Regions from separate parts of the Homo sapiens genome. Here region 2 is linked to region 1. Evidence: fine-mapped QTL for protein levels in blood plasma. A gene starts in region 1. The other region holds a variant in brackets. All regions are shown on one strand. Distances are between the middles of the regions.

Region 1 (4,383 bases):
ATTTGGCTGAGGAGAGGGGAATGTGTGGAAACTCACAGCTTCCACACCTTTTTAAAAGGAGCTCCCTATGCATGTGGACGAAACAGAAGTGGCAGCGTCCCCACCCCCGAGTTGGTGAATGGAGGTGGTGGCGAGGCGACGATGCCTGGAACATCCTGGCATGGGGCTGCCGGGCAGCCGGAAAGGAGACAGAGGCTGAGGGCACAGCCCCTGGCCCTAGACCCCAGCAGGCTCCTGGTGCTCCATCCAGGAAAGGGGCTCTCCCTGGAGGCCTGGGTATCGCCCTGGGATCTGCCCACAGTGCTGGCCTGAGTCCATTTGTGGTTGATCATTAAAGGCTGGTTCCCAGCCAGGCCCAGTGGCTCACATCTGTAATCCCAACACTTTGGGAGGCCGAGGTGGTTGGATCACCCGAGGTCAGGAGATCGAGACCAGCCTGGCCAACATGGCAAAACCTTGTGTCTACTAAAAATACAAAAATTAGCCAGGCGTGGTGGCATGGGCCTGTAATCCCAGCTGCTTGGAAGGCTGAGGCACAAGAATCGCTTGAACCCGGGAGGCAGAGGTAGCAGAGAGCCGAGACTGAGATCTCACCACTCAACTCCAGCCTGGGTGACAGAGTGAGACTTTGTCTCAAAAAATAAAAACAAAAATAATTTTTTTAAAAAGGCTGATTTCCCATCAGAGACAGGCAGGGCCATACAATAGCGCTCGGGGGGGTGCCCAGCCAAGCTCTGGTGGGGCGGGGGCAGAGGCTGTGCTCACAACAGGCTTCCCAGCAGGGGTTCAGGCACTAGCAGGGTCTCCTCCCCACCTCCTGCAACTTCCAGCAGGGAGCAACAGCCCAGTGACTGCCTGCTGCTCCCAGAAAGCCTCGTCTTCCCATCCCTGCCCCTGGCTGACCAGAACGTGTGCCCACACTCTTAACAGCGAAGGGTGTGTGCCTCCCTGTCTTCCCGAGAGAAGCCCCGTCCTGATGCTTCCTGGTTGGGTGTCACAATGGCCAATGGAATGTGGCTCTGGGGCTGGAGCAAGGGTGGCCCTCTATCCCGAGTCCCACTCATCGGCTGCTCCAGGCTAAGCTGGTCAGCACTCTGAGGCTGGAGGTCCCGAGACCCTGCTATGGGCCAGAGCTCCAACTCCCCACCAGTGAATCTGCCCTGAAGACATGAGATGGGTGTGGTGGCTCACATCTGTAATCCCAGCACTCTGGGAGGCCAAGGCGGGCGGATCACCTGAAATCAGGAGTTCGAGACCAGCCTGGCCAACATAGTGAAACCCTGTCTCTACTAAAAATACAAAAAAAAAAAAAGCTGGGTGTAGTGGTGCACACCTGTGATCCCAGCTACTCAGGTGGCTGAGGCAGGAGAATTGCTTGAACCCGGGAGGCAGAGGTTGCGGCCACTGCACTCCAGCCTGGGCAACAGAGCAAGACTCCATCTCAAAAAGAAAAAAAGGAAGAAAGGAAGAAAGAGAGAAAGAGAGAAAGAAAGAGGCAGAAGGCATTCAAATGAAGATCATATTTCCTTAATCACAATGTTTCATATGACCCAGCTCAAGGGGCCCAGAACCACTTCTCCATCCACCGCTCAGCCGGTGAGGGGTAGCAGAGCTGCCCAGGGTCACAGTGTGTGGTGAGGCAGTGAGGTCGGGGACCAGGAGCCCAACAAGGGCCATTCGCTGATGCCTCAGAGATGAACAAGTGGGCTGTTCCTGAGATACCTGCACTAGGCAGGGGGAGAGCGGTGCTCAGAGTGAGAAGGAAACACTCTTACCTGGATGGTCCTGCGATCTGGAGTAGACGCCACGCACCTGCGCACAAAAGACCACAGTGTGAGACACACTCAGGGAAAGCCTCCGGAGAAACCAAGCCTGTCGCCATCCTGGCCACTTGGGGACATTACCTGAAAGTTGTAATAAAATAGCAGCAGCCAGGAGTACCAGCAGCACAGCCGCAGCAGCTTTTCCATGGCTCTCTCGGAGGTCAAAGCTCGGAGCCAAGTGAAATTCCTGAGGGTCTGTGAGAACGGGACCTCTTAACCTTCACTTCCTTGGAAAAGGGACATTTTCACAGGTTCCAGGGGAGAAAATTTCTGTCTCCTTAAAGTTTGTGAAACACAGCTGTCTTGGAGACCTAATGGGTGTTTCTTCCTCGTCTCAAAACTTGAGATTCTTCAGTGATCAATAAACACGTTGCGATGACCAGAGCAGCTGTGGAATGCAGGGAGGAGAAACCCAAACCCGACTCGCAGTCCTGGGAAAGCAATCCCAGGTCACCACTGTGACCGCGACCTGCGCCCGGGGACGGGAGGCTGTTTGTCCTGCGGTATTTTCTTTTTATTTCAAGAGCCTCCGTTTGTCTCAGTCAGGTTTGGAGCTTCCCTTTTCTCTGAAGAAGGTTTTGTGCGTGGTTTTCCCCTGGAGCGCCCGCCTGCTCCTCGGGCTTGTCCTGCGGCCGCTCTCGAGCTCCTTCTGGTCTGGCTCAAGTTCACACCTCCGTCCTGCTCTCTGGGTGGAGGGGGAGTGAGTGATGTAAGTCTCTCTCCTCAAACTTTGTTCTGTTCTCCTTTTCTATTTATATCCCCACTGCTGTGTCCTTCCTGGGTCCTAACTCCAGCCTCTTAACAACAGCTGAAATATTTCCAGGATCTCAGGCTCAGAATCAAACCAAACAGACATGGTGTGTGGTGTGTGTGCGTGTGCGTGTGTGTGTTACTGATGCCTTCTGGTCAGCACCTTCAAAGTCGGCATAAATATTAATAAATACAAAATGCAAAACAAACCATAAACTCTGTTTAGATCTGAGTCTTGTTTGCCCCCAAAAGAGAATGAAGTTGACAGAGGGATGGAAAAGAGAAAGCAGCACACCCACTGTGCCCTCCATATTAAGCGCTGACCACATTTTTCTCTCTAATCCTTTCGGACGTCAGTGAAAGCTACGGAATTAATTACAAGGTACGCTGCGCAATTACACCATCCCACATATACCCCCACCCCAGCACCAGGAGGATGTTCTCAATGGGATAGAAAAGAGTCAGCCCCTTCGCCAGACATGCCTCAGTTTACCCAAGACCAAAGTTTATCCGATCTACTCCAAATACACGTGGACACACAGAGACACACACCCTAGAATTGCAGTCACAGCTATATTTGCTATGTGATTTAAGTAATATTTACCGCTTCATACTTTCTCCAACATTCACCAGCTGTGCTCCTAGGCAAATTACTTGATCTCTCTTAGTTTTCGAATTCCTCATCCACAAAATGGGGGTTAATAGTTCCTCCTCCTCAGGGCTGTAACAATAAATTAGAGGACAGATCCAAGGCTCTTCAGGCAGTACTTGGAAAATATGTGGCACTCAGTAAATGCTGCTATTTTCTATTAAGAAAAATTATCACTCAGTAAATGTTAGCTATGATTATTATTAGCAAGTATAACATAACACCCAGTAAATGTTAGCTGATACAGTTATCTCAATTGTCCTGACTTTAAATGGGAATTAAGAATCCTGAATCCAACATACTTCCTAAAGAGGATAAGAAAATGACTTCCAATCTCTGTGGGACAGAAAAAAAGAAAGTGCTGTCAAAACGTTAGGTGATTATTTTTAACTTGTGCCTGCAGCCTACAACCGCTCAGATCCTCTGATAGCCTGAGCCTCTCTGTGGAGCTGGAGAAGGGTTCCAGAGAGTTCCATCTCCTAGCAATGGAGAAACTGTGAACTCCAAAGGCCGGGGGCTGTCTGTAATAACGACCTTTATCCTGTTGCTCAGGCTGGTCGGCTTCAGGGAAAACTAATTTACAACCTTTATCTCTGCCATTTCATCAGCTCTCCAGTCCCCCACTGCCTCTCGCTGGAAGAGGTGAAGGGAGGGACAGGCAGCTGCAGGTTTTTCTCAGCTCCAGTTTTAACCTGGAAGAATTCAACAGATTGCTGAATATGCGGACCTTTCCCATCTCCATGACCGAACAAAGCCAGCATGGTTTCTTTTCATCATAAAATTGTCATCAGATAATGGGAGACACCCCGATTCAATGACTGTAATAAAAACTAGATAGCAAAGCAATTCAGCAGAGCTTGCCCTGCAGGCATCTGCACTCATCCTCAGACTCACTCTGACTCTCCATCCCGGACTACAGTCTCGTGCCTCATGCTATTTGCCTGCGTCCTGTCTCAGGCCTTGTTCAGAGGCCCAGATGAAGAGCCCGCCTCCATGTAAAGCAGCGTGTCCTGAAGCCTGGAGATTTGAGACAGGGCCTTGAGTGGTCCATGGGCCTGGAACCAAGCAACTCTGATGTCTCTGAGCATCTCATTCCATCACCCAAACGTCGGGGTGTTCGGCACCCAAACATCACCTTGACAGCAGGTCTCCCTCCCCCTA
Region 2 (4,383 bases), 56 kb before region 1:
CAGGAGCACGTCCCACCTCACCCCCGGCCTCTGCACTGTCTCCTTACACACATCCCTGAGAAAGAGCAGGCCTCCAAGAAGCACGCAGAATTATTCCTGGAATTGTAAATACAAAGTGTTTACAAAGATGGCGCCATAGAGAATGAACACCCTGTCTGTTCCCGCAGAAGCGACTTCCTGCAGATCATCACCAGTTCACAGGGTCTGGAGCAAACCAGGGTCATCGATTCTCAGGCCTGTGAGTAACAACAGACGCGACTGCTCGACCCGGCAATTCCTCTATGTGACCATGTTATTGATCCAAGCCCAAAGTCCAGATGACACACATGGAGTAAAACACAAACTTAAAAAAAAAAAAAAATGAAAAGAAAGCATCACCCTAGGTCCACGTGTCTCAACCATTTTTTTCATTATAGCCCCTCTGAAGAGGCTTTTTAGACATTTTTTTCTAATAAACTTGCCCAGAAAGTTTTAGTCCCACAGAGATACAAGCTGTACGTACAGAACGTACATAAACATTCCACTCTGCAGAGCCGCAGACCCGGGTAGTATCTCAGATGTTTCCCCGGAAGAACAACATTCACCGTCTGAGAACATTCACCACTGGGCATGCGTGGGCTCAGTCCCCACCGCAGAAAGTGAGGGTGGGCTCGAGGCCGCAGAAAGTTGGGGGGGACCAAGGCAAAGCCCCGCGGCGCCCAGCCTGACTCACTCAGCAGAACCTTGTCCCCGCCCCGCACGCGACTCCAAGGCCCTAAGACGTGTGGTGTGTTCGCTTCAGCCAGGAGCCTGGTTCTCACTCTCTGTGCCCAGTGCCCCGATGCTCGTGGCCTTTTCTGCAGAGCTCCATGAACTCAACACGTGTGCAATTCCACCAAACGCGCTGGAAAAACCACGTTGCTAGCAACACTTAGGGCTGTGCCATTAGCCAGAACAGAAAGTCGCAGCTGTGGGCTTCAGGCCCTAAACACGCAGCATGATTTGTCCCTTGACTTTCCCTCCGTGGACATTTCCTGATGGTGCAACCGGTGGTCATCATCTCCCTCCCAGAACAGAAATTCCCCTGGGGCCCGGATGCTTTCCCGTTTGGTTCACTGCTCTCCCCAGCTCCCGGAACCACGCCTGACACAGTGGGTGCTCAGCACACACGTGAGTGAGTGAGCGAGTGGATGAATCTACTCACAGGCAAGCGGCGATGACTTAGATCCATTTCTTAGGAAAAACATAAGGAAAACATTAAGTGAGAACCTTCTATGAACACAAATGATATGAGAGCAAATCTGGAGTGGTTTCCTGGATTCCGCTCCGGGAACACGTGGCCTCCACCAGGCCCAGTTTGGTAATCAGTGCGACGCCAGATGTCGGCCAAGTCAAGATGAGAATGGGGCCAGACGCCTCCTTAGGAGCATTTTCCTCCAGTAAAGGTGGGGACAGAGGTGAGGTGGGGAAGGGTGGGGCAGGGGTGAGGTGGGGCAGGGTGGGGAAGGGGTGAGGTGGGGCAGGGTGGGGAAGGGGTGAGGTGGGGCAGGGTGGGGCAGGGGTGAGGTGGGGCAGGGTGGGGCAGAGGCTGTGCTGGCTCTTCCTCTGCCCCTTATACCCTGCCTCCACCCGCCCCGTCCTGTGCCCATCAGCCAGGCTCTGGGCTCTCTCCCTTCATGTGCTCAGCAAAAGGGAAGCCCCAGAAGGTCAGAGGGCATCGGAGCAGATAGTGGGGCCAGGATTCTTTTCCCTCAGCCTACCAGGGCACAGTCGCTGCCCCGGGGGCCCCTCCATCTCTGCCCGGGGAAAGCCATCTCTTCCAGGGCCTGCCTGGCTGGCCCTGGGGAAAGCAGCGTGCCCCCATTCTTGTTCCTGGCCCGTGACTGTGC[T/C]GTCCCCCAGAGCTCTCCACTCCTGATTGCACCTTTGCAAATCCGCCTTCCTTCAATGTGCCCCAAGTTACTACCTGGCCCCACGGAGCCCCACCGATGGTCAGGCTCTGCGTCCTTCACCCCACGCAGCACATCTGAGCCAAAGCCACGCTGCTGCTCCGCCTTCCGTTACACAAAGAGGGGACTTAAAGTTACATGAGGCTTCAGAGGAGTGCTGAAATCTATGAGGAGACACAGAGACTTCCCAGCCTGTGCAGAAGACCGGCTCAGGAACTCAATCCAAAGAAGTCAGACCAAGTGGAGTAAGAAAAAGGGCTGTTATTCGGTTATTTGGAGAATTATCAAGTCCTCACAGTTACCATGTCACATTGGGGAGTGAACAAACATCGCAAATGAAAATATTCCCTGGTAAAGGAACTCCTTGATAACTGGCTCCTGCTGACACATGCCTGTGTGCTCAAGGAATCCCCTCACCCATCCGTCACACACTGCTTGTCACCTTCCCTCAGCGCGAGAATTCAACGCCACCCTGGGAACACAGTGTGAAGGAAACTCCAAATCTTGCCAACAAGGTGGCACATGGCAGCATCTCTGAGTGTGATCTTGGGTGATGGTGAATTCTTGAAGGAGACTGAGCCCCTGACTGACGCAAACAGCAGAAGGAGACAGCATCGAGGGTAACAGGCGACTTCCTCAGCACCGATGCTGCCCAGGTGACGTTGTTCTCTGTTTCGAGCAGCACTGCAGCCAGGGCCTTTCAGAAAGGACGGCAACAGCCACAATTCCTGCCCATGCCAGGAGCCCCCGCAGCTTTGCACTGTTAAAAGTCAAACCAGCAGGAAATCTGCCAGAAAACAGTACAACGCATAGGCTTCACCTACACTCTCAGCTCTTATCATTTGCCATGTTCACTTTATCTGGCAGTGGTCACGCTCACACTTGACACACACATACCACACATGTACACACACACACGCACATGTATGCACATACAACACACAAATGCACACACGCGCATTTGCATGCCCACAGCACACACAAAACACACATGCACATATGTGCACACATAACGCACATACACCACACAAGCACATACATGCACCTGTGTGCACACACACAACACACAAATACACGCACACATGCACATTTCCTTTCTGCTGAAGCACTAGCGGTGTGTTGCAGGCATCACAGCATACTCCATCTCTACCACGTGTCTCCTAAAAATGGAGACTGCCTCCTATATAACCATCAAACAATGATCACACTCAGAAATTTAACGAGGACCCTACAAGATGCTCTAATGCACAGTCCAGAGTCAACTGCACACACCCCCCACCATCACACACGTCCTCCAGAACTCCACTTCTCTCAACCCAGGAATGTGCATTAGCTCAGGCACGAACCTCTTTAGTCTCCCCCAATCCGGAACTGCCCAACTTCTTCTCCCTTGCAATCGAAACCACAGCAGCACACAACATCGCTTAGTTCAGGTGTGTCTGACTGCTTCCTCGTGAGGGGCGTGAGGCCATGCATCTGACAGGAGTATGCCACAGGAGGCATGGACGTCTCCCATGACGTGACAGCAAGAGACACGGGCCCACAACGTGTCCCACGTTGATAATGTTGAGTGTGGCCACCTGGCTGCAGGCGTGCGGCAGACATCCCCATCACCAGGCACCCTCCGACCTGGTACAGCTAGGACTCTGCAGGTCGGTGAGGTCCCCCGCCCCGCAACCCTGCTCCCGCTGGTGTGCACATCCACTGATAGCTTCTGCCTGGGTCAGTTACTGCACTGAGGGCTGCAGAACCGTGACCTACTGGTTCCATCGGTGCTCCGTGTCACTCTATAGTGACTAAGGACACACGCTGAGCCGGGTCCACCTCCCCACTCATCTTTCTCGAGCACCCGTGAGTCCCTCACAGCCTGGGGAGAGGCCCTTCCCTCTGTGGGCTGTGGCTTCCATCTTCACAGGAGGACTGGGAGCAGGCCAGTCTCAGCCCCGTCCACCTGGAGGAACCGGCTGTCCCGGTGCTGGCTGAGCCTAGCACGAGCACCCGTAAAAGCTGAACAGTCTCCATCATTGCGGGGCCAGGCAGCGAGTGAGACTCAAAGGATCCTAGGGGTACAAGCAGCCGGGCAAGAAGCAGCTAAGCCCCCACCGGGCCGTGGGTGGTCAGATATCATCCCCTCCGTCATCACAGGAGCCCTGGAATGGTCTGCCTGGGGCTGGCTGTGGAGACAAAAGTTCCTTCCGGCCCAGGCCCCACCCTTTGTGCACTGAGACTCACGTACTGACTTAGACCCTCACCCTCATCCCTGGAGAAGAAATTAAAGGACACTACGGCACCAAAGCATCCTTTCATCCTCACAACACACTGCGGATGTATGAGGATGACAGCACACAATACAAAGACAAAGACGGAGGGAAGTCCCCTGCAGGCTGGCAGGAACCCGGCATATGTGCGCACATAAACGTGCTGCCCGCACGGCAGCTGCACTAACCTGCTTCTCATC

Direction of the effects. Positions count from the first base shown, and alleles are read on the strand shown. Strength reflects both the effect of a copy and how common the allele is.
With allele T in place of C in region 2, the plasma level of the protein whose gene starts at base 2,529 in region 1 is higher (moderate association).

Evidence for each region. PIP is the chance, under the fine-mapping model, that this variant and not a neighbour inherited with it causes the effect. The UK Biobank Pharma Proteomics Project read protein levels with antibody pairs (Olink). The fine-mapping took linkage between variants from a reference panel, not from the people measured, so its PIPs are less certain.
Region 2: its variant is fine-mapped to the plasma level of the ADGRD1 protein (UK Biobank, PIP 0.99).

What each region holds. Positions count from the first base shown.
Region 1 is chr12:130,952,053-130,956,435 of GRCh38, reverse strand. It overlaps ADGRD1 (adhesion G protein-coupled receptor D1), which reads right to left and starts at 2,529. Exons shown (of 25, transcript NM_198827.5): 1 at 1,905-2,529; 2 at 1,776-1,812. The coding sequence starts at 1,970.
Region 2 is chr12:131,008,256-131,012,638 of GRCh38, reverse strand. All of the region lies in intron 12 of ADGRD1 (adhesion G protein-coupled receptor D1), which reads right to left. Among named protein-coding and RNA genes, the nearest start is that of ADGRD1-AS1, 16 kb to the right of the region's middle. RefSeq lists an enhancer at 968-2,167. The variant T/C (reference allele first, on the strand shown) is at 1,869.